Linked DNA regions of Homo sapiens. The protein of the gene in region 1 purifies or fractionates together with the protein of each later gene. This does not show direct contact. Each region holds a gene or a part of one and is shown in the gene's direction. Other genes may lie near its edges.

Region 1 (4,306 bases):
ACAAATATATCTCAAGCCTCTGTGCCTTTGTACACTAATGGTTCCTGTTGGCTTGAAAAATACTCTTCTTCTCTTCTTTGTTCTAGCTCCTTAAGAAACCATATAGCATAATCAGCTGCGAACCCAGGTTTTGGAGTTAGTCAGACTTGGGTTCCATCCTGGCTTTGCCCTTTACTAACAGTGTGGCTTTGTTTCAGTTTCCTCTCTGTGGAATGGGTAAAATTAAATCTACACTAAGGGTCGGTTGGAAGGTGGGGGGTAATTAAATGAGACAATCTATTTAGAGCACCCAACAGGCCAATACATGGTAGGAGCTCAATAAGTAATAGCTTTCAGTATTTTAACAAATCATTCAAGATTCAGATCACATGCCATCTCTTCTTGGAAGCCTTTCCTTCCCCCTTCTAACTCCCACCTGGATGAGCTGCCCTGCCTGCACAGCTGCAGCATTATATGCTCACTTCTCTCATAGCAGAGAGGTCCCCAACCCCTGGGCCAGGGACCGGTACCAGTCCATGGCCTGTTAGGAGGCGGGCCCCCCAGCAGGAGGTGAGTGGTGGGCAAGGGAGCATTACTCTTTGAGCTCCACCTCCTGTCAGATCAGCCACGGCATTAGATTCTCATAGGAGCGTGAACCTTATTGTGAACTGCACATGTGAGGGATCTAGGTTGTGTGCTCCTTATAGGAATCTAACTGGTACCTGATGATCTGAGGTGGAACAGTTTCATCCCGAAACCATCCCCCAACCCCCCGGTCCGTGGAAAAAATTGTTTTCCATGAAACTAGTCCCTGGTGCCAAAAAGGTTGGGGACCACTATATAGCACATATCACAGTGGTTATAATTAATTCAATAGTGTTTTTGAGTTTCTACCAGATACTAAGTATTGCATATACAGTGATGACAGGAGAAAAAGACTTTGTGATCCCTTTGAGAGCTGGACCCTGTCTTGCCTTTATATCTCTAGCATGGTGCCTGAAATACAGTAATTGATTAATATAGACTGACTCATTCAGTGAACAAAAGAGTGGACCTACTTTTGTTGTATCTATAGTTTTCATATTCTTTGGGCTTGCATGGCTTTTTGGTTGGACTATTATGTGAATCTCAAGAGGTTCAGCATGTCAGTGTTAGCTACTCTTAATGTACACACACCATGCCAGCCTTCCCTAGGTGTAGTGGTTGTATCAGGAGGTGAGATCATTCTACTCCTTTCTTTCAGATTCTACGACAAGGTACTTTCTTTGCATGAGGATTCAACAACCCCTGTGGCTAACCCTCTGCTTGCATTTACTCTCATCAAACGCCTGCAGTCTGACTGGAGGAATGTGGTACATAGTCTGGAGGCCAGTGAGAACATCCGAGGTAATGAGGAGGAGGGCTGGAGGGTAAGAGAGAAGATTCTATCTCCTGACTCGGTGGTAAGGAGAGAGATTCTGTTGGGATGTGATTTCAAAGGGTAATGGAGTAGGTGGGTATTACTTAATATCCTTAGCTCTAGCTAGCACAAAGAATTAGGCCCGCTTGCTAATCAGTTTATATGATTATACCTTAGAAAGCACTTTCATATCAATTGTCTCATTTGATGTTCACTACAATCCTGTGACAAAGTACAAGCCTTCCATTTATATATGTATAGAAAATAACGGTCTTCTAGTAGTTTCTGTTTCATTAAATTGTCACTACAGTGTCATCTATAGCAAGATCACTTTCCTAATTTATTCTACTTTGTGCTGTAAGAAGTTTGTTGACGGCCAGGCGCGGTGGCTCACACCTGTATTGCAGCACTTTGGGAGGCTGAGGTGGGCTGATCACTTGAGGTCAGGAGTTCCAGACCAGCCTAACCAACATAGTGAAACCCTGTCGCTATCAAAAATACAAAAATTACCGGGGAGTCGTGGGATTACATGCCTGTAATCCCAGCTACTCGGGAGCTGAGGCAGGAGAATTGCTTGAATCCGGGAGGCAGAGGTTGCAGTGAGCCAAGATCGCACCACTGCACTCCAGCCTGGGGTGACAGAGCGAGACTTTGTCTCAAAAAAAAAAAAAGTGTTGACTTTTGGGCTGGGCACAGTGGTTCATGCCTGTAATCCCAGCACTTTGGGAGGCTAAGATTGCTTGAGCTCAGGAGTTCGAGACTAGCCTGGGCAATATAGCGAAACCTATTAAAAATAACAAAAATTAGCCAGGCATGGTGGCGCATGCCTGTAGACTTGGGAAGCTGAGGCACAAGAATTGCTTGAACCCAGAAGGTGGAGGTTGCAGTGAGCTGAGATTGCGCCACTGCTCTCTAGCCTGGGCGACTGAGCAAGACCCTGTCTCAAAAAAAAAAAAAAAAAAAAGAAGTTTGTTGATTTTTGGAAAGCTAACAGTGAGAAGAGTCTGGGTGTGGTTGCTCATGCCAATAATCTCAACACTTTGGGAGCTTGAGTTGGAAGGATCACTTGAGGCCAGAAGTTTGAGACCAGCCTGGGCAACATAGCAAGACCCTGTCTCTACAAAAAAATTTATTTAAATTAGATGGATGTGATGGCGTGTGCCTGAAGTCCTGCCTACTCAGAAGGCTGAGGTGAGAGGCTCACTTGAGCCCAGGAATTCAAGATTATAGTGAGCTATGATCATGCCAGTGTGCTCCAGCCTAGGCAACAGAACAAGATCCTATCTCTATTAAAAGAAAGAAAGAAAAGAAAGAAAAGAGGAGAGAAGAGAAAAAAAGAAAAGAAAAGAAAAAGAAAAAAAGAAAAAGAAAAAGAAGAGTTGTCTCCCTAAAGAGTGAGACTCCTGTAAACATACAGGATAGGACAATATAATGAAGCTGTATGCCTTAATTTTTATTCCTCATTCACTCATTCTGAATGTTCCTCATTCAGAATTGCATTAAGCATCCACCCTGTGCCAGGAACTGTGCTTGCCTCTGGGAACACAAAGACAAATCCAACTTGATGTCATTAAATATTTGAACAGGTGGTCATGCCTTACATGTATTAAATGCCCAACTCCTGTTTCTTGAATGCTGGGTTGATGTTTTTACTACTTTTACAGCTCTGAAGGATGGCTATGAGAAGGTGGAGCAAGACCTTCCAGCCTTTGAGGACCTTGAGGGAGCAGCAAGGGCCCTGATGCGGCTGCAGGACGTGTACATGCTCAATGTGAAAGGCCTGGCCCGAGGTGTCTTTCAGAGAGTCACTGGCTCTGCCATCACTGACCTGTACAGCCCCAAACGGCTCTTTTCTCTCACAGGGGATGACTGCTTCCAAGTTGGCAAGGTAACAATATTCAAGAGAGGGCCAATTGCTTGGCTCTGGTTTCTTATGGATAAAATAACTATGTACCGATTGATTTTACTTCTTTTTAATACTTACAGTAAACTTGGAAATTTGATATCATTTCCATTTTCAGAGAAAGAAAACAAGATTCAGAGAGGGTAAATAACTTGCCCTAAGATTATGCAATTTTAAGGGCAGAACTAAAGCTTGAACCCAGTCTTTTGACTCCAAATCTCAGGCCCTTTCCATAGTAGTTAAGGTGTTTATATACTTAGAACACTCTTGAGATTGAAAGGGGTGTTATTAATTATGCTAGAACAACAGACATGAACTAGGAAAAATGGTCCTTTGTTCACCCTAACTATAGCACCCTGCCAGTGCATGAACTCCTGGGTAGAAAGGGAAAGCAGGGGGTCAGGGACGCAAGGTTGGGGAAAAGGATAAGAGATGGTGATGGAAAGGTAAGATCACGGAAACAGCCTCCTGAGACTTTCTGGAATCCAATGCAACATTTCCTAAGCATTTGGAAGTACAAAATTAAAGTAGTGTCCAAAATCTAAGGCCATTCACTTTAACATTACTTGAGGAAATAGACTTCAGGAACACCCCCGCCCCCCATCTGAGGTATTTAACTGATCTTTGATTATAAGTTGTAATCACACGTGAGATCATTTTGTAATATACTCTTTGCCAGCCTTTGCTATAAAAAGCAATGGAGCAAATCCATTTTAACTTTGAAGATGTTTATTGCAGTAAGGTGTATTTTTCCTGACTCCTACAGTATTCATCAACAGATCTGGGAGTGGGTCTCATGTGTCCTGATTCCAAGTTTTGGGAGTCAGTCTTCCAAATTAAGGCAGAGTAGGCTGCTTGAGTCTCTCTACATACTGTTTTCTCTTTTCTGGGATCCTGAGTGGAATCAGAGCTCAATCATCATGTTCATGGCTGATTTAAATTTAAGCCAGGTAAAGTAGTTTAATGTATGGTACTAACATATTAGTGAGGCCTTTCTGAAAGTAAAACCGTATGTTGAAAATTTA
Region 2 (3,960 bases), on another chromosome or scaffold:
GGGACGGTCTCTACCTATAAGTTAGGTTGCAGGTCACAGCATGGCCAGGAGGGGTTCTGGAACAGACAGGGGAGAAGCGAGTCGCAGTCAGTTCACCAGCACCAGCCCCATCCACACCGCAGTGCAGCGGGCAGGTTCTCTAGACTCAGGTTCCATGGGTTCTGGCAATCCTAGGGAGCCAGAACCAACTCCCAAGGCAGTGTCCTTGCCTCACTGCCCAAATGTGAAGAAATCTTGGCGTGGCAGCTTCCAGGATCAGGCTGAATCCTGGTCCTGCCACTTGTTAGCTGTATGACCACAGGCAAGTTACTTAACCTCTCTGAGTCTTAGTCTCCTCATCTGTAAAATGGAGCCATAACGGCACCTAATTCCTGGGGCTCTTCATGGGTTCAAGAGGGTGCCTGGCTCCAGCCAGCTCGCAGGATTGCAGGCCTAGGTTCTGTGGGTGGGTAACAGAGGTCATCCCTGAGGCGGTATCAGACAGACCGGGCCCAGGAGACAGTGGCCTGGTAGCTCCAGAACACCCACTGGCTCCTCTCTCTGTCCCTTGTCCCACAGCTCTGTGGCCGGCGGACACTGCTCCCTGTCTGCCCCCACAGCCTGGGCTCTGGAGAGTCCCATCCCGAGTTGCTTACCCAGGGAAAGCCACTCCTAGCGTACGAGTTGGCTTGAGCCAGCACTCAGATCTTTTGCATTTGCAAAAACCATGAAAATGACAATCTTTCCATGGAGTCTGGGGTGTCTCTTGTGAAGAGGGTCCCAGGAATCTCCCCCCTGGATATCCAAACCACACACAGAGGTGCCACCTGCTCTTCCTCCTGGGATGGCTGTGGGTACTGGTGACCACCTCCAGCCACTGCAATGCGTGTTCTCCACGGGTGGCCGGTCCCTAAAGCACCAGGAAGCCCAGCGACAGCCCTGCCTGCTCTCCTGGGTCAGGTCATCTTTTGGATCCATGCTCTGCCTGTGGCCAGAAGCCATTCCGGAAATTGGAAAACTGTTTTCAGGCCTTACGCCTGAGATTAAGACCACATGTTGTGTTTAAGAAGCAGTGGGGGCCCGGGATGTGCTTGGTGGTGAGAGGGGTTGGGCCCCTCAGAGTCCCTCGAGCTGGCTTTGCTGCCGCTGTCCCTGGCCCACCCCAGCCTTCTCTCCCGAGCTGCATGGGGCCACTGGCTTGGCATCTAAACGCGTATGTGTGAGGACTTTGGTTACCCCATAAACCAAAGACCCAGAGCTGTGTTTTCTCAGCTGTAATGTAAGTTTTTATATCTGGCTTCCAAACTCCTACTGGAGCACTGTAAAAAATTAAAAAGAAGAGCTTTAAGTAATTAAAAAACCTACATAAAACTGAAGGCTATGAGTTTTCTACAACTGTTTTTTAAAGAGGCTGGCTAAAAAGCCCCAGATGTCAGATTTTATTTCTAAATCCTGGCATCTGGCACCATATGCGTTTGGAAATCTGAGTCCCTTGTAGGCCAGTGAGTGGAAATTGTGCCCTTGTTCATGGGCTGCTGTAGCTTTCAAGGTCTCAGAGAAGCCAGAGCCGTGGCTCCTGGGTCCTCCCTGTCTGGCGGTCTGGAGTAGGAACCCTGAGGGGCTGTGTCTGGGGGTGGTGGGTGACACGCACTCACTCTCAGACTGCCCGGGTTTTCCTTCCTGAGACCTACAGGCCCTCTGAAGGACTTCTCCCTGCTAAGGTGTGCCAGCTGGACTGCTTGCTGGGGTGAGCCCACAGCAGCCCCCGACCCCACGTCAGAGGCCAGGCCTCTGTAAGCCAGCCAGCGGCCCACAGCACACTGGTAGGGAACAGCCAGGGAACGTCCCCTCTGCCCACCTCGGGGGAGCAGTATCAGGAGAGCTGGCAATATTCATCTGTGCACTTAAAGATGGCCTGGGGTGGCCTTCAGCCTGGGCGAGGTAGACCTCACACGGAGGCCTCGTGGCATTGTCCTCTGTGCACATGCCACAAGCAGGTTGCCACCAGCAGCTCGCATTTGGGGACCTCTGGTTTGGCTGTCCTCTTCCCCGTCTATACCAGCAAGATTTTCCAGAAGTAAGATGTAGTTCTGTGAAGTTTATTTGGAAAACAGTGTTACCTTCAAAGGGGAAAGGTGTGCATGGAAGGATGGGGTTTGTCAGAGATGGTGGCTGTTTCCTCTTTCCACCCCGGACCATCTTAAATCCCAGACATCATCCCACTTCATACCGCACCCGCACGCCTCCGCATGTCTCTAAAAGACGCCCACGATACCATTATGTCACCTAAAAACACGTAATGATTCCTTACGTCATCAGATGTCCAAACAGAGCTGTGGGAATGTTTAAGGATGTTGTCATCCAGAGACGTGGCAGGCAGTGGGCAGTGGCAGAACCTTCCCCCGGGTTCCCCAGAACAGACCCAGAAGGCCCCACCTGCTGCCCCCACCCAGGTCCTCCTGCAGCCGCAGGCCCCGCCCGTGCCGCAAGGCGCCCGCCCTGAGCCTCCCTGTGCTCTGCTTTCAGGCCACCACATCCACCAACTGGATCCTGGAGTCCCAGAATATCAACGAACTCAAGTCCGAAATTAACTCCTTGAAAGGGCTTCTTTTAAATCGGTAGGAGGGAGGAATGGGGACCCTGTTCTGGTCGGGCCTGGAAAGGAGGACTGGGAGCTCTGGGGCATGGGAGGGGCATGACGCCCACCCCCACCCCCAAGGACCCCATCTGTCTGGGCGACTCAGGCACTGAGTCTGGGGCCTTTTGAGCTTCTCTCTTCATTCCCCAGTTGACACCCTCTCCACTCCAGAGGTGACGGTCTGTGGCACACAAGTTTTGAAATACAGTTCCCAGGCCTGTGAAGACCTGGTCAGGGACAGCTTGAGCCAAAAAGCAGGGCCCTTGGAGCAGAGGAGAACTTCCTGGTTTGGCTCCTCCTTCCTGAGCTCCAGGTGACCACTCAGTGACAGCTTTGTCCCAGGGAAAGCCCCTGCGGGAGAGTCTTTGTGTTTTGTACTTGGAAGGGTTCCACAACTGAAGACGTGGGCAGAAGCAGGCCCTGCCCCCCGGCTTCTTGGTTGTCCCCCTGTTGTCCCTCTGTAGCGACAGCACATTGTCACCAATGCAGCCTCAGAGGTAGGGTGACCAACTTGTCCTGCTTTGCCTGGGACTGTCCTGGTTTTATTTATTTTTATTTTTATTTTTTTTTGAGATGGAGTCTCGCTCTGTTGCCCAGGCTGCAGTGCAGTGGCACGATCTCGGCTCACTGCAACCTCTGCCTCCCGGGTTCACGCCATTCTCCTGCCTCAGCCTCCCGAGTAGCTGGGATTACAGGCGCCCGCCACCACTCCCGGCTAATTTTTGTATTTTTAGTAGAGGTGGGATTTTGCTATGTTGGCCAGGCTGGTCTTGAATTCCCGACCTCAGGTCATCTGCCCATGGCCTCCCAAAGTGCTGGGATTACAGGTGTGAGCCACTGTGCCTGGACTGTTCTGGTTTTTTAAAACTGAAAGTCCAGTGTCCAGGAGCCACTCTGTCCTGGGAGCCGCAACTGTGGGCCATCCTCCTGGGCTGATGCCCTAGTGGGCCTTGCATGGGGTGTCCTTGTTTCCCTGCTGGGCTGGATTTGTTGGGAGCTGGGTGAGTGGGAGGGTGCAGGTGGGCTTTTCACTAGGGTCCAGGATGGGGTGCAGAGGGGTCTTGCGGCTCCAGCCAGAAGACCCCATTTTCCAAGCCACCCAACTTCCCGGTTTTCCCTGAGGAAAAGAACATGTCCTGGAAAGAGATGTGGCGCTGGCAGAGGCCAGAGCATTGTCATTAGGAGACAGCCTCCATTTTCCCTAACCGAGACCAGTGCCTTGGAGGCTGGGGATGGAGGCCAGGCCATCGGGTGACCGTGGGGGCCAAGAAAACTGCACATGGAATTTCTTGTTAGCGTTTAGGATGCTGGTGAATAAAGCAGGCCGTGGTGTGTGCCCCACT
Region 3 (4,306 bases), on another chromosome or scaffold:
CACAGAGCCGCCTGCTGCCCCGGCCACCTCTGCTTACACATGCTTTCGCTGCCTGGAGTGCAAGGAACAGTGCCGGGACAAGGCTGGCATGGCAGCTCACTTCCAGCAGCTCGGCCCCCCTGCCCCTGGGGCCACCAGCAATGTGAGTCACCTTTCACAGCCCTTCTGTGGGGACAGGATCTAGGAAGGCGTTGGGGGCTTGGTTAGAAGTAATGGAGACAGGACACTCCTCACCGACTTTCCTTGTTTAACCCACTCGACAGGTGTGCCCAACCTGCCCCATGATGCTCCCCAATCGCTGCAGCTTCAGCGCCCACCAGCGCATGCATAAGAATCGACCCCCCCATGTCTGTCCTGAGTGTGGGGGCAACTTCCTGCAAGCCAATTTTCAGACCCATCTCCGGGAGGCCTGTCTGCACGTCTCTCGCCGTGTAGGATACAGGTGCCTCGGACCCTTCCTCCATAGAACTGTAGGGTTTCGTGTGTCCTAGCCTCAGCCTCAGATGGCCTTTCAAGATCCCCTATCTTCCCTGCTATATCCCTCAGCCCTGTTGTTTTGCCAGACTCAACCCTGAGATAGTACGTCCTGCCTTCCCGTCGTCCCCCATGGAGATGGGGGGAAGCAGGGCCACCTCTGGAGCTCCAGCTCTCCCTTGGCAGCCTCCCTTGGGGCACAGCCTCTGCACCTCTCTCCTTTCTCCACCCTGCTCATGCTCCACTACTGATTTCCTTCTTGTAGTCTACCCAGTCCCAGAGAATAAATGTATGGTCCCGGGGTGGGCATGGAGATGCCTCCCACCTCACCACAGGGCCTCCTGCTTCCTCCCTAGGTGCCCCAGCTGTTCAGTGGTGTTTGGGGGTGTGAACTCCATCAAGTCCCACATCCAGACGTCGCACTGCGAGGTTTTCCACAAGTGCCCCATCTGCCCCATGGCCTTCAAGTCTGGGCCAAGTGCCCATGCCCACCTCTACTCCCAGCATCCCAGCTTCCAAACTCAGCAGGCCAAGTGAGGCCCGGGGGAGGGCCGGGCTGGGCCAGGGAGGGCTGGTGGGGCGCAGGAGGGGAGGGGCTGCACCCAACCCTGCCTGATGTCTGCACTGTCCTCACTTCAGGCTGATCTACAAGTGCGCCATGTGCGACACAGTCTTCACTCACAAACCCCTCCTCTCCTCACACTTCGACCAGCACTTGCTGCCCCAGCGTGTCAGTGTCTTTAAGTGCCCGTCTTGTCCTCTGCTCTTTGCCCAAAAAAGGACCATGCTGGAACATCTCAAGGTACAGGAGCAGAGGGATGGGGAATGGGTGCTTAGCTGTACTGACCTGGGGCTGGGGCCACATACTTCAGAAGTGGGGGGCTTTGGCATAGCCAGGCCCTCCCCCACAACAGCAACCTCCCTTGTCTCCTCTCACAGAACACCCATCAGTCTGGGCGCTTGGAGGAGACTGCTGGGAAAGGGGCCGGGGGTGCCCTGCTGACCCCCAAGACTGAGCCTGAGGAGCTGGCTGTTTCTCAGGGAGGGGCAGCCCCTGCTACTGAGGAGTCGTCTTCATCTTCAGAAGAGGAGGAAGTACCCAGCTCCCCTGAGCCCCCCCGTCCAGCCAAACGGCCTCGGCGGGAACTAGGGAGCAAAGGCCTCAAGGGTGGGGGTGGGGGGCCTGGAGGCTGGACCTGTGGCCTGTGTCACTCCTGGTTCCCTGAGCGTGATGAATACGTGGCCCACATGAAGAAGGAGCATGGCAAGGTGAGTGGGCCCCAAGGGGAGTACCATGGGCTGGGGGCAGCATTGGGACTGCCAGTGTGACAGTGGGGACGGGGTCCTGGAGCCTGGCTCTGACATCTACCCCTGCTCTCCTAGTCAGTGAAAAAGTTCCCCTGTCGCCTGTGTGAGCGCTCCTTCTGCTCCGCCCCCAGCCTGAGGCGCCATGTCAGAGTTAATCACGAGGGCATCAAGCGAGTTTACCCCTGCAGGTAAGTCTTGCTCCCCGCTTCCTCTTCCTGCCCAGCACGTGACTCTCCCTGTATGCCAAAGTACCTGTGCACCTGCGACGTGTCTAAGTGGCCTGATGGTTGGGGTCTCCCTCTGCTCTGGCAGCCCCCTCCTCAGAAGCAAGGGCCCTGGCCTTCGGGCTGTGCCGCTGCTGCCATCCTGTCCTCTCCCATTTCAGGTATTGCACAGAGGGAAAACGCACCTTCAGCAGCCGCCTGATCCTAGAGAAACATGTCCAGGTCCGGCACGGCTTGCAGCTTGGGGCCCAGTCCCCTGGCCGGGGGACCACCTTGGCTCGGGGTTCCAGTGCCAGAGCCCAGGTAGGCAGAGGCCCGGCCTGCTGTGCTAGGGCTTTGAGTGGGAAACTGGAAGGCAGAGACCATGGCCTCAGGAAGCGAGCATGGGGGTGCCAGGGACAGTAGGGGTGGTGGTAAGGCCCAGTTTCTTCCACTTTTCTTCAGGGGCCAGGTCGGAAACGCCGCCAGTCTTCTGACTCTTGCAGTGAGGAGCCTGACAGCACGACACCGCCAGCCAAGTCCCCCAGGGGCGGACCTGGATCTGGAGGCCATGGCCCTCTGCGCTACCGGAGCAGCAGCTCCACAGAACAGAGCCTCATGATGGGGTTGAGGGTGGAGGATGGTGCCCAGCAGTGCCTCGACTGTGGCTTGTGCTTTGCCTCCCCTGGCTCCCTGAGCCGACACCGTTTCATCAGCCACAAGAAGAGACGGGGTGTGGGTAAAGCCAGTGCCCTGGGGCTGGGGGATGGGGAGGAAGAGGCCCCTCCATCAAGGTCTGACCCCGATGGTGGAGACTCACCCCTGCCTGCTTCTGGAGGCCCACTGACCTGTAAGGTCTGTGGCAAGAGCTGCGACAGCCCTCTAAACCTCAAGACCCACTTCCGCACGCATGGCATGGCGTTCATCAGGGCTCGGCAGGGGGCTGTTGGGGACAACTAGTCTCCAAGGCCTGGGACTGACCAGCCCCTTCCTCTTGGAGCCTGGTTTTCCCTACTGCTGCCTGATCCCTCGGCTGGGGAGTTTTCATTAACATTAATATTTTGTTAATTCCTGTCTCTCCAACCTGAAGAAGAAGAGCATTTGAGGATTATTCTAGTTATTTGCAACCTCCCTTTGGGTTTGGCCCTGGAGTCCTAGTAGAGTGGACCCTCCATTCCTCCTTTCTGAGCCCAACACTAATTAATTTTATGCTCCTGCTGCAGAACCCCCAGTGTGGGCCTGGGGGTGGGAGGATGGGACTTAGGTATGCCTGCTAGACAGGTTCAGGGAAGGACTGATGGGGGTGTCATGGATGGACACACCTCTCCACAATTCCTTCAGGCATGGACTGGAACTTTCCTCCTCTAGGCCGGGCCCTGCCCTAGTGCCCACCCCCGCCCCCGCCCCCGCCCAACCCCAACTCACTGGCACTCAAGCCCCCTACCCCTGCAGTGCCTTTCACTTCTTTTTTTCCCCAGAAATCCGGGGCGGGGGGGTGGGGGGTTGGTAGGGATGAGTCCTGTCAAGGGGGCCACAGGAGAGGAGGGGACAGGCTCTCAGGAATCCTTTATTCTTGTAGTAATAATAATACTAACAAACAGTTGGGGAACTAGGGAGAAAACCAGACCATTAAAACTGTTTGTGGTCGAATCTCCATTCAGGCCTCTCTTTTTCTGTGACTTGGACAATGTGGAGTTGAAGCGGGTGAGAGAACATGGAAGGCCCGCCCTTCTCAGGGAAGAGGTGGTAGTGACCAAGACAGGCAGGGAAAAAGCAAACTTCTATGTAGTGCCTTTTGTATCTTGGACACTGAGGCATCCGTTCATACCTCATCACCCATCTCCCCCTGCACTCCCCCAGAAAACCTGGAAATGACACAAGTGGCTAACTAAGGACTTTATTTCAAACAAAAATTAAAAATAAAAAATTGAGAGCTCTTTTCCCTGGGTTTGGGGAAGGAGTCAGGGTAGGGAATTCCACATGGCTAGGCCAGTACCCTCAGTACACTGGAGGGCTGTGGGAATTCCCTTCCTTGCCCATGATGGGGAACCTCAGCAAGTGCAGGGCCCACGCAGCGCCCGCCAGCAAGGGGAGCTTGGGCCAGGGGTCGGTCCCTGGGAGGGGTAGGTCCCTGGGAGGGGTAGAGCTGGGCAGCAGCATGGCCAGTGGCCAACCACAGGATCAAGTCCTAAGTACCGAGAACCTACTCTTCCCCACTTCCTGGGCCCCAGAACGGAATAAGAGGATGGCCTGTGGAAAGAACCTCTGAGAGACCCCTACAAGGAGAAGAAAGGCCCCAGTGTCCCTCACATTTGTCACCT
Region 4 (4,306 bases), on another chromosome or scaffold:
AAACGCACACATTTCAACCAGAGCACCTCTATGTTCGTGTCTTAAGAGGATATCTATAAGATAGCTGTTTTTTTTTTTTGAGACGGAGTCTTGCTTTCTCACCCGGCCTGGAGTGCAGTGGCATGATCTCAGCGCACTGCAGCCTCTGCCTCCCGGGTTCAAGCTATTCTTCTGCCTCAGCCTCCCGAGTAGCTGGGATTACAGGTGCCTGACACAACGCCTGGCTAATTTTTACTAGAGACGGGGTTTCACCATCTAGGTCAGGCTGGTCTCGAACTCCTGACCTCAGGTGATCCACCCGCTTCAGCCTCCCAAAGTGCTAGGATTGCAGGCATGAGCCACCGCACCAGGCCACGAGATAGCTTTTAAAAAGGGAATTCTACTGCTTAAAAAAAGTTCAACACTCTCTAACAAGTTGCTAAAGTTTCTCTTCCCCTGACATGTGTGTCCTGGTGGGGTGTGGCCAGAGCTCATTTACTGGAGATTTTCACCTAGCCTCGAGACCTGACCGGGCTGTGGGGGATCCATGCACAAGCGGCCACACCTGAGCCCCATGTCTTGGGTACCTCTGTGGTGCGACCCCCCACAGGGAGAATAGACCTCTGGGCTTCAGGGAGGGCTCTCTGGGCTGTCCCAGGAGGCCGCTGGACTTGTCACCTTGAGATCCCAGATCAGCATAGGCAGGAGGTGGTTCCTGCCACCAGACTGAGGCAGGAGGAGTTCCCTGGATGGGAAGGTCTCCTCTGGAGTTCAGGGGCTCTAGCCCCAAGATACACCTCGGTCCTGTGCACAGGAAGGAGTCCCCCAGGCTACCTGAACACCTGGGGTATGGGTGCCAGAGGAAGGGCCTTAACCTCATGCATCCACTAGCACACTGGGGCAGGAGACGCAGGGCCTGGAGAGGTGGAGCTGTGGGGTGGTCTCTGTGCCTAGGGAAGTGGACACAGGGTGGGTGCCACTGGGGAGGTGCTAAGGAGGTCCCAGGGGAGGGCCCTAAGGTCCAGCAGTGCAGCCACTCCCCTCTTCTGTCACCTCTGTGTTGTTTTTGGCAACCTGCCCAGTGGGGCCTTGGTCAAGCTGCTGCTGGCCTCACCGCTCTGGGTCCTCAAAGTGAGGCCCTCAGGAGGGCAGGCGGGAGGGGTTTGGAGGCCAGTGGCGGGAACTGCAGAGCTGGGCTCTTAGGCTCCGAGAAGTTCCCTTGTGCCCAGTGGGAAGCGTCTGTGGGGAAGGAGGTCCCTTCCCTCAGTCCCAAAGTGGAGAATTCACCCTGCGCAGGCTGTAGGCTCAGGCACAGCATGACTGGGGCCTGGGATTCCTTATGAGGCCCTGGCACTGTGCCTCCCCTCCCAGTCCTCTGAGAAGCTGGAGAGGCTGGTGACAAAAGTGAGATCACAAGGTGACATTTGCAAACCTTATAGTGTATGAAATATTATAATTTCCTCACTTGCCTGTGAGATAGGTATTTCAATATCCGTTCTGTAGATAAGGAAAGTGATGCTCAGAGAGGGTTAGTGACTTGCCTAAAGTCACACAGCCATAGCATGGCAGAGCAGAGGCAAAGCTGCACCCTGTCCCCTGTGCTCTGCACTCAGCTGCCCATCAGTATTACCTAGGGATTGTTCTGTTCTTTTCTTTTTAAAGAGATAGGGTCTCACTTTGGGAGGCCGAGGTGGGCAGATCACTTGACGTCAGGAGTTCGAGACCAGCCTGGGCAACGTGGTGAAGCCCCGTCTCTACTAAAAATACAAAAATTAGCTCAGTGTGGTGGCAAGTGCCTGTAGTCCCAGCTACTCAGGAGGATGAGGCAGGAGGATCGCTTGAACCTGGGAGGCAGAGGTTGCAGTGAGCTGAGATTGTACCACTGCACTCCAGCCTGGGCAACAGAGCAAGAGTCTGTCTCAAAAAAAAAAAAAAAAAAAGGACAGGGAAAGAGATGGGGTCTCGCTATGTTGCCCAGCCTTGAACTCCTGGGCTCTAGTGATCCTCCTGCCTCATCTTCCCACCTCAGCCTCCTGAGTGGCTGGTACTACAGGCAATGCCACCATGCTGGCCTAGGGATTGTTTCAAAAGTGCAGACTGGGCCAGCCATGATGGCACACACCTATAGTCCTGTTGGCCCTGTGCACAGGAAGGAGTCCCCCAGGACTCCTAGTTAGCCTAGGAGTTTGAGACTGGCCTGGGCAACATAGTAAGATGCCATCTCTACAAAAAAATTAAGAAATGATCTGGGCATGGTGGCACATGCCTGTAGTCCCGCCTATTCAGGAGGCTGAGGTGGGAGGATCGCTTGAGTCGGGGAGGTCAAGGCTGCAGTGAGCCGAGATCGTGCCACTACACTCCAACCTGGGCAGCAGAGCAAGACCCTGTCTCAAAAAGTAATAAATAAGTAAAAATAAAAGTGTAGACTCCTTGGACTCCCCTCAAAATCAGACTCATCACAGAGGGCCTGGGACTCTGTGTATCAGAAAGTTCTCCCCATGATTTTACTGCAGTTCTCAGAAGTGAGGCTGGGGACTCTTGCTCCATATCGTAAGAAGGCAAGGGAAACTGCTAAAAGGGAGGCGTCAGGACTCCCCTTTTTTCTTCTGGGGTTTAGCTGGCGCTTTATAGCTATCCAGAGAGAGAACAGGGAGGTGGGAGATGCTCCCTCAGCCTCCTGCATTTGATATCAGGCCAATTCCCTGCCCCCACCCGGGTCCTCTTCAGGGAGCAGGTGGCTGAGAGAAGAGGGGTACAGTTGCCCTGGCCCTGCTCCCCGCCCCTCGCCGCACCACTCCCTTTTCTGAACAATCTCCTTCTTTGGCCAGAGGAAATGGGGTGTGCTGGGGCGGCCGGCTGAGCTCACATCCTCTGCCCGGGAGCCTAAATCAGGAGCCACCCTTCCACCCCCAGCGCCAGGCCCGGGAAGAAGGTTGTACCGCAGGGGAAGTGCCTGGAGTCACTGCCAGGAACCTGGACCCTCTGCCCTCCTGCCAGGGTCCCCAGCCCGGTCACTCTGAGCCTCTTCCCCACCGCCTTTCCGGCTATTGTTCTGAAAAGAACGGAGCCACCCAGCCTGGCCCTTGCCCTGTTCCTGTCCTGCCTGTCACATTGTCCTGCTCCTCTCGGGAGGGACTGCATCCCGCCACCCAGCTGCCTCATCCCAAACTGTCCAGGCTGTTGGAAGAGGAGGGCTAATGGAAGAGTGGGCAGCTTGAAGGGTGCTCTGTGTCTCTTCCCTGCTGACCGCATTGTCTCCACTGGGGCTCAGAGAGGTACCGTGGCAGGCCAGGGTCACACAGCCAGAGTGAGCATTTGAACTGTGCACTTCCGCTTCTAGAGCCCCTCTTCTTTCTACTGCCTCAAATGGTTCTGTATGACAAGGACTTTCCAAGGGGACTGGAGGAAAATGGAGGTCTGTGTTTCTTCCCAGTGGCCACAACCCCTTTAGCGCTTTGTCCCTCCCTGGCTCTGTCTTTACCTTTGTGGCACAGTGTCCTTCAGTTTGGCCCTCAATGTAGCTGTCCCCTCCCTCCCTGTGCCATGTTCCCTACTGCCAGGTTGGTCCCTCCCCTCCCTGTTGGAATGAAGCCCTGTCTTCCCCAGGCTACTGGGGTATTCAGGGGTCCACCAGAGCCTGGGGGGCAGGCCTGGGCCAGCACACTTGGCACTCTGCCCAGCCTGGCCAAGCCAGGCCCACTCCTTCCCTGCAGGGTGGGTTCTAGCAGGAGGCAGGGGCCACCCATGACAGGCCTTCCTTCCCTCCCCAGCACTTCAAGAGCCACTCCCACCAGTTCCCTGGCTCTCGCAGGGAGCACACCTGCCTGAACCCTGCCCCGAGAGGGGGTGGCCCCAGCTCCTCTTGCCACCAACCTGCAGAGTCCTTGTCCAGGGCATGGACATCTCAGCCAAGACCCTGGAGGTGTGGAGTCAGCAGTAGCAGTGACTCCCCGGGCAGTCTGAGCACCCATGGAGATCCCAGTGGGGACAGTATGGGCCCTGTGCCAGCTCTTGTTGGAGGACCATCGCCCTAACATCGGGATGGTATTTGCCCACATGTCAGGAGGGCTAGATGTTGAGAGCTCCTGTCTTTGCATATGACAAGGTCAGGCACTGTACTCACAGCCCCCGTGAGCAGGTTCTGATCAGCTCATTTTACAGTTGAGGACACTGAGCATGGGAGGTTAAATGACTTGTCACAGTCACACAGCTGGTGCCTGGCAGAGCCAGTGTTGGGTAGAGGTCTGTCTAATGTCACCTTCCTCTGGGATGCCCCAGGACTGGGCATCGTGGCCTGCCCTTGAATACCTAGTGCCTCTTTCCTTCT
Region 5 (4,306 bases), on another chromosome or scaffold:
GAATTTTGAAATAAAGGTTTGAGTGAGGGACAGCTGAAAAGGTGGCGGTGACACCAAAACTTGAGGAAAAAGAAAGGCAGCAGCTGTATTGCAAAGGAGTTACTTGTTCACCCACCTGAGAAGACAAAGAATGAGCCAATAAGGAAGTGTAGAAGTAGTAGCCAGAAAGGGAGAAGAGTCTTGTGGGGGCTGGGTAAGGGACTCCTAAAACAAGAGTGGGCAGGGACTTCACCTCTTCCCGTAATGGAAGCTCTGTTAAATTTTTAATTTAGGAGAGTTTTTGTGAAAATGACTATTTTGTTTAGCTCACATGATAACATTTCTATAATAAATCATACTCAGCGTGCTTATGCGCGAAGAGACTGAACTGAAGACGCTGCAGACTCAGATAGCAAAATAATAAGCCTACTTCATGATAAGGTAACTATTAGTCATTCAAACTCCTATTTCCCTTAAATATATCTTAAATCAGTTAAGGGTTTTAATGTTTTTTTTAAATTAATAGTAATGTTATGTTTGAAAAACTGGTTTGAAATAAACTTTAAAACCTTTAGAAGTTTAACCACTTAAGACTTTTCCAGTCTGCCTCGTTATAGCAAAACCAAGGAAAATTTCTTTTCTAAGCTCCTATAGAGAACTGGCAATGAAACTAAAATTTAATTGTGTCTCCAGGTCTCTTATTTTTCTGCAAATAATAAATTATGTACTATGATCATTTTCAGATAAATCATCATGCATGTTCCAAAATGATTGGCCAAGTTTTATTTTTAAGAAACATTAATCGTGAGTGGAAAGAAACATGCTATGGCCTTTTGGGAGACAGTAGTGTCTTATTACAGTGGAAAAGTGGTAGCGTGGGCATCAGAAAAACATGGGGAAGGTTCAGCTCACCCATGTAGCTTTGTAACTTTAGATCTTAGTTATACATAAAATAAGGGGATTAAGTTAGAGGATCTTAGTTTCCTTCCAGAATTAAAATTTAGTGATTCAGAGATGTCTAGGATTTTAAACTTTCACTACAAGATGAATTTGACAGATCTTCCTGTAGGGAACTGTAGTATGTAGCACTTCTACTTTGGTATTTGGTAGGATGAGACTTGATCATGCAGTTAATTTGAGCTGAGTCTCTGAATGCACATGTGAAGGCCTTGGTCTTTTTAAAGTGTGGGGGCAGTATGTATTGTGTGATGGCATGTGGATTGTTATACCTAGTTTGGTTTCTTTAAAATTGAAACATACAGTTGCCATTTCTACCCTAGGTACATGAAGTGTAATACTCCTCTAAGCCTATTGGGATACTGCAAGATGAAAAGTGATTGCTTCACAGTTTAGACATTGGGAGGAAAATCAAGAGCTGTCTTTTAGAGGATGTAGCAGGCAGTATAACTGTAAAAGGGACACTGCATCTCTGTGTAAAATAATTTGAAATTATAGAAAATATTAGTACTTAGTAATAATTATATTTAGCTACCTAATTGAAATGCGTTTCTGGTGCACTTTTTGTGTCATTATCTCCATTACTTACTTAAACTTAACATTATGTAATCTGGATTTAGAAGTTGATGTATATACATGGTCTGTATTCTTTTAGATAAACATAAGGGATTCCTCTTTTGTCTGGCATAATGGCTTTTCAATATTTCAACTTTAAAAATCATTGTTTCTGTTGTATTGAAAATATTTTGGGGAGGAACTACATTTTGGGTGTTTATAGTAAAAAAAATAGTAATTACATCTGCAACATTTGGGTGATGTGAAACTAGATCTTTTTTTTATTTGCCACACACTCCTAAGGTTACTAATGTTGCATCACAACATTTTTGTCTACTGATACCCATACTAACTCTCTTTGTTGCACTATTTTCCTGAAAGAACCAACTTCTTCTTAAAACAGGGAAGAAGACATGAATCCAAAGATAAATCCTCTAAGAAACATAAGTCTGAGGAACATAATGACAAAGAACATTCTTCTGATAAAGGAAGAGAGCGACTAAATTCATCTGAAAATGGTGAGGACAGGCACAAACGCAAAGAAAGAAAGTCATCAAGAGGCAGAAGTCACTCAAGATCTAGGTCTCGTGAAAGGTAAGTCATGTTGTATTATAATGTAGTACCTTCTAACAAGTTACATAAAGTTTCTCATTGACCCAGCAACACCCAAAAAAATCATAATTAGGGAGTTTTTCTTGTTCGTTTGTTTGGGTTTGTGGTTTTGTTTGTTTTTTGCCTTTGGGCTTTGCTTTCTCATCATGCAAAAATGGTTTCCAAGAATGGGGTGTAAGGGATGACTAAATCTCAAGTGCCTAGATTTCTTTTCCCTTTTTTTTTTTTGACACGGAGTCTTGCTGTGTTGCCCAGGCTGGAGTGCAGTGGCATGATCTCGGCTCACTGCAACCTCTGCCTCCTGGGTTCAAGTGATTCTCCTTTCTCAGCCTCCCAAGTAGCTGGGATTACAGGCATGTGCTACCATGCCTGGCTAGTTTTTGTATTTTTAGTAGAGATGAGGTTTCGCCATGTTGGCCAGGCTGGTCTCGAACTCCTGACCTCAGGTGATCCACCTACCTCGGCCTCCCAAAGTGCTGGGATTACAGGTGTGAGCCACCGTGCCCAGCCTAGATTTTCTTTTTTGAGATGGTCTCTCTGTTGCCCTAACTAGAGTGCAGTGGTGTGCTCTCAGCACACTGCAGCCTCTTGTCCTCCAGGGCTCAAGTGATCTGACCTCAAGCCTCCCAAGCAGCTGAGACCACAGACATGCGCCACCACACCCAGCTAATCTCTTAGTATTTTTTTGTAGAGACGGGTTTTGGCCATGTTGTGCAGGCTATTCACGAATCCCTGGGCTCAAGCAGTGTGACGGCCTTGGCCTCCTGAAGTGCTGGGATTTCAGGAGTGAGTCACTCTGCCCAGCTGAGATTTTTAACCACTTAATCTGTCTGGCACTGAAAAAATCATATTGTTAAACTGTGTGGTTTAAGCTGATAAACAGTCCTTTTGCATCATCGATGGTGATGTTGGTGTTTGCTGCTAAACTGCAATCTAGATTTTTTTTAATGTTGGAGTATAGATAAAAAGATTTTTGAGAAACTGGATCACAGCTCAAATTTGTGAATGGTTTTTGGTGGGGTTTTTTTTGGAGAATTCTGTGGGTTGTGTGTGGTATCAGACTCAAAAATTTTTAGTAGATAAACTAAAGTATTAAGATTTGTAACTACTGTGGGAAGAGTATTAAACGGAAGCTTAAATTTGGGTAGGATGCATTGAACGCTTTTGACATGTTAATAGGTTTACTATGTTCTAGGACAAATTATCAAACAAAATGAAGGGTTCGTTTTCAGTTAGTATTTCCTTTGAAAATCTCGCTTATTTCTGTAAATAATATAGTGCAGTTACTTGCTTGTCTTTATTGCGTTACTACAAGTAACTAATTCATGATGTGTATAAATGAAACAACACAACTTTTAAGTAATTACAAATTTGTGCACTTTAATTTCAGACGCCATCGTAGTAGAAGCAGGGAGCGGAAGAAGTCTCGATCCAGGAGTAGGGAGCGGAAGAAATCGAGATCCAGAAGCAGAGAGAGGAAGAAATCGAGATCCAGAAGCAGGGAAAGAAAACGGCGGATCAGGTCTCGTTCCCGCTCAAGATCAAGACACAGGCATAGGACTAGAAGCAGGAGTAGGACAAGGAGTAGGAGTCGGTAGGTGACCATCATCCTGAATAAAATTTAATAGGACCCTCAGAGAGTCTGTTTATCTTCCTCAGTAAGAGAGTATTAAAATTGTGAGTCACAATTCTATTTATAGATTATGGTAAAATTATTTTAGTCATTACCTAACGTATGAAGAACACACCTAACCACTTGAATAGCATTCACAGGTATTCTCGTGATTGATAAATCTCTTGCGAAGTGCAGGTATGAATAGGCCTATTAAAATGCAGTTGTTGGCTAGGTGTCGTGGTTTACACCTGTAATCACAACGAGGCGAGCAGATTTTTTGAGCCCAGGAGTTCAAGACCAGCCTGGGCAATATGGTGAAACCCCATGTCTACAAAAGATATGAAAATTAGCCTGGGGTGATGACCCACACCTATGATCCCAGCTACTTGGGAGGCTGAGGTGGGATAATCACTTGAGCCCAGAAGGCAGAGGTTGCAGTGAGCCAAGATCATGCTGTTGCACTCCAGTCTGGGTGACAGGAGTGAATCCTGTCGTAACAAACAAATTCAGTTGTGTTCAACACTGGATTTGTTGTATTAATTTTATTATCACAAATAACTAAAATCTCCTTTTGCATACTTACCATAT
Region 6 (4,306 bases), on another chromosome or scaffold:
CTCCTCAGACCGTGGTGTCCTGGGTTCTTACTGGGGACTCCTCCCCGTTCTGTGTGGCTGACCTCAGCCTCCCGCCCCCTGAAAGTCAAGGATACCCCCTGGTCCAAACTCTACCCCAAATTCATCTTGCTTTTGGGCTGGCCTGAGTCCCCCGGGGCAGGCAGACCCTCCTTATCATGCGTGAGGCTCCAAGGGCTCAGAGATGACTTCCCAGGGGCAGAGGGCAAAGCCAGGCCTCTCTGGGCAGGTTTGGTTTCTTGACCACACAGCAGGCAAGGGCCGACTCACGTTCTGGGTGAAGTCTTGGTGCACAGCCACACCCACCCACTCATGTCACCTGGGGCTGACACTTGCCACCGTGATGACCACAGAGGGCCCGAGGAGCTGGAAGTGTTGACTGCCTGGCCCCGTCAGGGAAGTTGCCAGCCTGGCTTAGAGTCCTGTCGGGGGATGTGTTATGTGAGCTGCACATGCCATCTTAAGTGTTCTAGTCAGCACGTTAAAAAAAGGCAAATTTACTTCATGGACCCCAATGTGTTCAAAATACCATCCTTTCAGTAGTGGCACTCTCCCATGGCTGGTGGCTGCTGTGTGGGGCCTGGGTGATGAGCGGTGGGCAGCCACGCAGAGACCTCTGAGAAGAGTGGTCCAGGCCACGAGAGCAGCCAGTGCAAAGGCCCTGAGCCACCTCGAGCGGCACAGGGGCCCTGAGTGAGGGGGTGTTTGCGGCCAGGCCTGAGTCCCCAGTGGCAGGAGGGTGAAGAGTCAGAGCAGTCGCGTGTTCCTCATAAGTGCGTACCGAGTGCCTGCTGGGTGCTGAGATGTAGCAGCAGAGAGGGGGCATCTCGGTGAGGCAAAGCGAGCAAAGCCTTCAGTCCATGGCAGCCGGGCGGCCTTCCTTCCTTCCAGAGGGAGCAGCTCCCGTCAAGGCTGCCAGTGGCCTCATCCGTCTCCCTTCTCATGCGGCCCGACCAGCCCCCAGACACTCCCCCCTCTTATTGTCTGGGATACAGCTCGCCCCTCCTCTGCTCCTGCCTCCTGGCACCTCTGTGCTGGCTCTGGCTTCTCTATCCTCGCCCTCCTTCCGGGTCATTGTTCCCAAAAGTGGGTTGTAACAAATCACAAACGCAGCGGCTTACAAATCACAAACGCAGCGGCTTAGAAATCACACAAGTCTGTTACAGTTCTGGAGGTCAGAAGTCCAAAATGGTTTGGTCTCATGGCCCAAAATCGAGGTGTCTGCAGGGCCACGTCCCTTCTCAAGTCTCCAAAATCAAGGTGTCATCTGCAGAGCCACGTCCCTTCTCAAGGCTCTAGGAGAGAATCCGTTTCCGGCCTTTTCCAGCTCCTAGAGGCTGCCCGCATTCCTCGGCTCATGGCCCTTCCTCCGTCCTCAGAGTGCTGCACTCCGACCTCTGCTTCCATCCCCCATCACTCCTCCGACCTTGACCTCTGCTTCCATCCCCATCACTCCTCCGACCTTGACCTCTGCTTCCATCCCCCATCACTCCTCTGACCTTGACCTCTGCTTCCATCCCCATCACTCCTCCGACCTTGACCTCTGCTTTCATCCCCATCACTCCTCCGACCTTGACCTCTGCTTCCATCCCCCATCACTCCTCTGACCTTGACCTCTGCTTCCATCCCCCATCACTCCTCCGACCTTGACCTCTGCTTTCATCCCCATCACTCCTCCGACCTTGACCTCTGCTTCCATCCCCCATCACTCCTCTGACCTTGACCTCTGCTTCCATCCCCCATCACTCCTCTGACCTTGACCTCTGCTTCCATCCCCCATCACTCCTCTGACCTTGACCTCTGCTTCCATCCCCCATCACTCCTCTGACCTTGACCCACTTAGGTCCTGTGGTCACTTATTTATTTATTTATTTATTTTACTTTAAGTTCTGGGATACATGTGCTGAACGTGCAGGTTTGTTACATGTGCCATGAAGGTTTGCTGCACATACCAACCTGTCATCTAGGTTTTAAGCCCCACATGCCTTAGGTGTTTGTCCTAATGCTCTCCCTCCCCTTCCCCCACCCCCCGACAGGCCCTGGTGTGTGATGTTCTCCTCCCTGTGTCCATGTGTTCTCATTGTTCAACTCCCACTTCTGAGTGAGAACACATGGTGTTTGGTTTTCTGTTCCTGTGTTAGTTTGCCAAGGATGATGGCGTCCAGTTCATCCATGTCCCTGCAAAGGACATGAACTCATTCTTTTTCATTGGTGCATAGTATTCCATGGTGTACTGTGGTCACGTCTTAGGTCACCTGTGATGACATTCGGCCCGTCAGGATAGTTCAGGAGAGTTTCCCCATGTCAGTGCTTAACTCCCTCCCATCCACAGAGTCCTTGTTGCCCTGAGACAGCAGATGACAGGTTCTGGGGATCAGACCGTGTACATCTTTGGGGCCATTATTCTGTCTGCCACAGAGGCGAGGTGAATGCAAGGTGAAGTGGGGGTGGAACAGAACCAACGTGGAATCTGTGAGCCTCGGGGTTTCGCCCTTTCCAGTTTCCATGACTCCTCAGAACAGGACCTGGCACATGGGTGCTGTCTAGGTAGATTTCAGCCACTGTTACCACTCTGAGCTCATGCCATCTGTTTTGTTGGCATTAAAATGTTCTTTTAGGAAAAGATGGTAAAAGTAGGTGGTGGTTATTGTTGCTTTTAATGTATATATCTTGCAAAATAAAAAAAAATCTTCCATTCGGGGATGCAGTGAGAGTTCTGTTGGTTCAGTGAATCTAAAAGTCGGGAAATCACCAGGCTCCAGGCCGTCGGGACTCTCCTGCGTTCTCTGCTTGCTCCGAGGCGAACCTCTCACTGTGGCTCTGGGATGTCTTTAGCATCTCTCTTGTATCTGTTACTCTCTCTTTTTAATAAGGGCAGATCTCAGGTTCAGAGCCTTCTCCTATCAGTGTCCACACAGACGGGAATAACACTGCCGTGAGTGATGGAATTTCCCATGACCTCTCTCTCTGGCACATGATACTGGCTTTCCATTTCCAGCAATGATACAACATGGTCTTAAGTCAGTGTTATTTTAGTTTTAGGTAAAAGTAAAGAAGAGTAATAAGAGCCTGGGCGATAGCCATTGTAGCTGACGGTGGTGTATAGACAGCTGACATCTGGGGGCGCTGCTGTGGATTGGGGTTTCTTGGCATCTGGTCTGTGGGAGCTGACGGTGACGCATAGACAGCTGACATCTGGGGGCGCTGCTGTGGATTGGGGTTTCTTGGCATCTGGTCTGTGGGAGCTGACGGTGGCGCATAGACAGCTGACATCTGGGGGCGCTGCTGTGGATTGGGGTTTCTTGGCATCTGGTCTGTGGGAGCTGACGGTGGCGTATAGACAGCTGACATCTGGGGGCGCTGCTGTGGATTGGGGTTTCTTGGCATCTGGTCTGTGGGAGCTGACGGTGGCACATAGACAGCTGACATCTGGGGGCGCTGCTGTGGATTGGGGTTTCTTGGCATCTGGTCTGTGGGAGCTGACGGTGGCGCATAGACAGCTGACATCTGGGGGCGCTGCTGTGGATTGGGGTTTCTTGGCATCTGGTCTGTGGGAGCTGACGGTGACGCATAGACAGCTGACATCTGGGGGCGCTGCTGTGGATTGGGGTTTCTTGGCATCTGGTCTGTGGGAGCTGACGGTGGCGCATAGACAGCTGACATCTGGAGGCGCTGCTGTGGATTGGGGTTTCTTGGCATCTGGTCTGTGGGAGCTGACGGTGGCGCATAGACAGCTGACATCTGGGGGCGCTGCTGTGGATTGGGGTTTCTTGGCATCTGGTCTGTGGGAGCTGACGGTGGCGCATAGACAGCTGACATCTGGGGGCGCTGCTGTGGATTGGGGTTTCTTGGCATCTGGTCTGTGGGAGCTGACGGTGGCGTATAGACAGCTGACATCTGGGGGCGCTGCTGTGGATTGGGGTTTCTTGGCATCTGGTCTGTGGGAGCTGACGGTGGCGTATAGACAGCTGACATCTGGGGGCGCTGCTGTGGATTGGGGTTTCTTGGCATCTGGTCTGTGGGAGCTGACGGTGGTGTATAGACAGCTGACATCTGGGGGCGCTGCTGTGCATTGGGGTTTCTTGGCATCTGGTCTGTGGGAGCTGACGGTGGTGTATAGACAGCTGACATCTGGGGGCATCTAGTGGGAGCTGACCGTGGTGTATAGACAGCTGACATCTGGGGGCGCTGCTGTGGATTGGGGTTTCTTGGCATCTGGTGTGTGGAAACTGACGGTGGTGTATAGACAGCTGACATCTGGGGGCGCTACTGTGGATTGGGGTTTCTT
Region 7 (3,432 bases), on another chromosome or scaffold:
ACGGGGGTTTCACATGTTGTGAAGTCACATCTTGAATGACTGTCACCCTCATCCTTCCCCAAAAAGCTAAATAAGGGCCTTTGGCATCAATGCGTGCATTCTCCACCTTTCCGCGGCTTGCGCTTGGATTTCTGAGTGGCTTTCTTCAGGGAGCCCTTGTGGTCATGTGTCTTTAATGCTGCTCCCCATGCCCCCAGGCCAGGCCAGCACGCTCAGGTGATAGCGAGTGGGGCCAGGAGACCCCCCTGCCCTGCCCAGTGGACAGATCTGCCCCAGCCCTGCTGTGGGGACGGGCCCTCTATCATTTAACCACATACATTAGGTTGCTTTTCAGCAAAATGTCAGCTTTCCTCCCATTATGCAGGAGAGAGAAGGGGCGCAGGTGTATCTCCTTAGAGTACACCTTGGAGCTGGATCACTAAGAAACAGTCCTCAGACTGGTCCTTCCGACACAGGCAGAGAGTGAACTGGATCGCTGGCCCCTGGGATGCTGCGCTGTCTGTGATTAGAGAGAAGTGGCCAGTGTCCCGTCTGTGATTAGACAGAAACCCCTGTGGCAGACTCCTCCCCTCTCCATGAAGAAAGAAATATTTACTTAGATATTACTGTTTCAAAACACAAACTTTATTCCCCTTAGAGAAGAAATACTGCCCTTAAATAGACTGTTGAAATATTAATGGCCCCCCCATTTAATCAGTGTGTCTGCGGCTTTCTTCGCGTCACATGTCCGCATTGGCAGGTGATTCTGGAAAGGGATTCTGGGAAACCAACAAGTCTTTTTTAAATCTTTGAGTTGTATGAGAAAGTATTTAAGTTCACCAGTGTAGTAAACACCCACCCCAGAGCAGCGGTAAGCAAACCTAAATCTGAAAACCCATTCTTACTGTCTTTCACCATGAGATGCTGGTTTTGGTGTAAAATGACAGCACTTGGTTTGGGGTTTTGCACCTGTTGGGTAGAACTGTTCTTGTCTGAGGTCCTCACCCTCTACAGATGGGCCTCAGGGCCTGGAGGTGGGCAGATGGGGCCAGAGTGGCCAGCAGAGACTTGCATGGGCTCTGAAAGCCCCAGAGCTCAGGCCTAAGGCTGCTAGGTGAGACCAGCAGGCAGCTGTGGCATCCGACCTTGGGACGCCCAAGCTGGGCAGCCGCTCCATGTGCCCCAAACAGGATATCCTCATGAATGTGAGGAGAGGCTGGCTCAGGGCTTGGTTTTCATTTTGGCCTGGCACAGGGTACCTGTAGGGAGCACTCCCCCAACCTGAGGATGGTGAAACCATATGATAGAGACTCCTTGTCGAAGTCCACATCGGACTGATCTAGAATGCCCCGTGGGGGGATTGCATGGCCTTTGCCTTGAGATGCAGGTGAAAGAAAGGAACCAAACAAGGCATGAGTGTGTTGGGGAATCTTCCCAGTGGAGCAAACCCCCTTAACACACCAGCTGTTGGGAACAGCTGCCCCTAAATCCAATTAAACCCTCATCTCCCTGGTGCTGAACAGTCTACACTGGCCCAGGAAGCTAACGTCTGAGCCGCTTGGAGAGCTTTGGTAAACAGAAGACACTGGAAGCCCACTCGGTCAGCAGCTGGGCATGAGGATGTCAGGGGCCTTTGGACTTGAGGAAGGACAGTCCAGGTGCATGGAATCCTAATGGGCCTCATGCAGACACTGGAAGCAGCCCAGCCCCCTGCCCAATACCACAGCCCTGGGGTGTCCCCTGACATTCCTGGAGGTCCCTGGGCAAATGCATTTCCTGCCTGGGTTCTCAGGGTAGGAGAACAGAGAAGGCTCCAAGGGTGTTGGGAGTGAGCCAGGGGCTGGTCTGGGGAGTGGGTCTCACGCACTGCTCAGGTTGGCACGAGGGACCTCCCCCATCCCAACCCAGCCCCAAGGGTCCCAGCAGGGCTCTCAGCATGGCTGTTTTGAGGGTACACAGGTGGCTGGAGAGGGGTGGGGCAGTTGCATGGTGGGTGGCAAAGTGTGCATTTAGAAGCTGCTTCGTGGCGTTAAGAACGGGGGGAGAGGGACCAGCACTGTAACGTTAGAAATAATTCCTTCTTGCAGACTTGAAAAGCATCAGTTTCCCTCCCACGGCTGGGTTTTTGTGTCTGAAATACATCTAATTCTCCAGACTGCAGCCCCTCTCAGCCCCGAGCACCTGAGCGCTGGGGAGGCCCTTATTGAGCTCAGCCTGGAGAGGGGAGGGTCGCACGGGTCCCGGGGGCAGGTCTCCTGCACTGGCTCTTCCCTTCTGCCAGCTTGGAATTTGGTTCTCATCTTGCCACAGGGGTGCGTTTCCTAAAGGGCAGCCGGAGCAGCTCAAAGGTGACAACTGAGATGCATTTCTAGGCAGGGGCAGGGAAGGCCAACCCACCTTGCAGCCAGTTTTCTGTTTCTGTAAATAGCAGTGTATAGAGATGGAAGGGCAGCGTGGGTGTATCCACAGATGGGTTTAGGTTTTTTTTTTGGATGTTTTCTATTACCTCATTCAGCAACTTTATGTTTCACAATGACTCAATGATGCTTTATTTATATTGTTTGTACTGTAATTAAAACCATTGACAGACATTTCACTTTGCTTGTTATTTCATATGATCTTGTTTTGATTAAATATGCCAGTTTGTATTTTCCTGCCTTGGGATTTTTTTGTGTCCGCTGTACAGTATTCTAAGGGAAAAAGAAAAAGAAAGATGTGTAAAGTAACAGAGAGAGGTGGCTATGGTGTAGAGACCTCTTTCTAATAAAGAAATGAAAATATGTCTACACCGCTTCCGTGGAGTTGTTGTTTTTTGTTTTTTGTTTTTTTTTTTTTTGGTGGCGTTGGTCATTTGTCACAACTAATTGTGTTTCTAAGCCCAGGAAAGGTAAATCAGAGAGAAAAGGGGCTCTGTCTGCTGCGGGCAGGGATTGCCCCAGGCCCAGGCTGCCCCAGGCCCGAGGGACTCAGCACACGAGTTCACAGACGGAATGAAGAAAGAGACCAGGAGTGTCTCTTCTGACTTCTTCCTTTACAAGGACAGAAACTCCAAGAGAATGTTCTTTGCCCAGCCAGGGTTGACTGGGCCCAGAACTTCCAGATGCTTCTGTATCTTTGCACTGTGCCACACTGCCCCAGGTGTGTCGTAAGAACTATTCCCAGCAGGTGGCTAGCAGTAGAACCATCCCAGGACTCTATTATTAAGACCGTTATTATCATTAATATTACTGTAATTTTTGCCTACAAACTACATTATATCTTCCCCTCCAAAAAAAAAAAATGAGAAAACTGACCAGGCCTGGTGGTTCACACCTGTAATTCCAGCACTTTGGGAGGCCAAGGCGGTTGGATCACTTGAGGTCAGGAGTTCAAGACCAGCCTGGCCAACATGGCGAAACTCCGTCTCTACTTAAAATATAAAAATCAGCTGGGCATGGTGGGACATGCCTGTAA

Evidence for each region.
Region 2: the proteins of P4HA3 (region 1) and PEX14 purify together in Homo sapiens (co-immunoprecipitation; 3 studies listed by BioGRID and IntAct, with this or other methods). This does not show direct contact.
Region 3: the proteins of P4HA3 (region 1) and ZNF687 purify together in Homo sapiens (co-immunoprecipitation; 3 studies listed by BioGRID and IntAct, with this or other methods). This does not show direct contact.
Region 4: the proteins of P4HA3 (region 1) and CASKIN2 purify together in Homo sapiens (co-immunoprecipitation; 3 studies listed by BioGRID and IntAct, with this or other methods). This does not show direct contact.
Region 5: the proteins of P4HA3 (region 1) and RSRC2 purify together in Homo sapiens (co-immunoprecipitation; 3 studies listed by BioGRID and IntAct, with this or other methods). This does not show direct contact.
Region 6: the proteins of P4HA3 (region 1) and ZNF444 purify together in Homo sapiens (affinity purification with mass spectrometry; 2 studies listed by BioGRID and IntAct, with this or other methods). This does not show direct contact.
Region 7: the proteins of P4HA3 (region 1) and AGAP1 purify together in Homo sapiens (affinity purification with mass spectrometry; 3 studies listed by BioGRID and IntAct, with this or other methods). This does not show direct contact.

What each region holds. Positions count from the first base shown.
Region 1 is NC_000011.10:74,301,329-74,305,634, reverse strand, and holds part of P4HA3 (prolyl 4-hydroxylase subunit alpha-3 isoform 1 precursor), read left to right. Parts: intron 1-1,222; coding exon 1,223-1,365; intron 1,366-3,042; coding exon 3,043-3,266; intron 3,267-4,306. UniProt on the Homo sapiens protein: Catalyzes the post-translational formation of 4-hydroxyproline in -Xaa-Pro-Gly- sequences in collagens and other proteins.
Region 2 is NC_000001.11:10,624,767-10,628,726, forward strand, and holds part of PEX14 (peroxisomal membrane protein PEX14), read left to right. Parts: intron 1-2,505; coding exon 2,506-2,597; intron 2,598-3,960. UniProt on the Homo sapiens protein: Component of the PEX13-PEX14 docking complex, a translocon channel that specifically mediates the import of peroxisomal cargo proteins bound to PEX5 receptor.
Region 3 is NC_000001.11:151,288,265-151,292,570, forward strand, and holds the end of ZNF687 (zinc finger protein 687), read left to right. Parts: coding exon 1-142; intron 143-263; coding exon 264-442; intron 443-830; coding exon 831-1,007; intron 1,008-1,113; coding exon 1,114-1,276; intron 1,277-1,413; coding exon 1,414-1,743; intron 1,744-1,857; coding exon 1,858-1,970; intron 1,971-2,167; coding exon 2,168-2,309; intron 2,310-2,450; coding exon 2,451-2,945; 3' UTR 2,946-3,912; downstream 3,913-4,306. UniProt on the Homo sapiens protein: May be involved in transcriptional regulation.
Region 4 is NC_000017.11:75,508,673-75,512,978, reverse strand, and holds part of CASKIN2 (caskin-2), read left to right. Parts: intron 1-3,088; exon of another isoform or gene 3,089-3,254; intron 3,255-4,306.
Region 5 is NC_000012.12:122,516,618-122,520,923, reverse strand, and holds part of RSRC2 (arginine/serine-rich coiled-coil protein 2), read left to right. Parts: intron 1-342; exon of another isoform or gene 343-412; coding exon of another isoform or gene 413-420; intron 421-1,872; coding exon of another isoform or gene 1,873-1,894; coding exon 1,895-2,085; intron 2,086-3,493; coding exon 3,494-3,697; intron 3,698-4,306.
Region 6 is NC_000019.10:56,147,601-56,151,906, forward strand, and holds part of ZNF444 (zinc finger protein 444), read left to right. Parts: intron 1-4,306. UniProt on the Homo sapiens protein: Transcriptional regulator. Binds to the 5'-flanking critical region of the SCARF1 promoter.
Region 7 is NC_000002.12:236,129,029-236,132,460, forward strand, and holds the end of AGAP1 (arf-GAP with GTPase, ANK repeat and PH domain-containing protein 1), read left to right. Parts: 3' UTR 1-2,765; downstream 2,766-3,432. UniProt on the Homo sapiens protein: GTPase-activating protein for ARF1 and, to a lesser extent, ARF5. Directly and specifically regulates the adapter protein 3 (AP-3)-dependent trafficking of proteins in the endosomal-lysosomal system.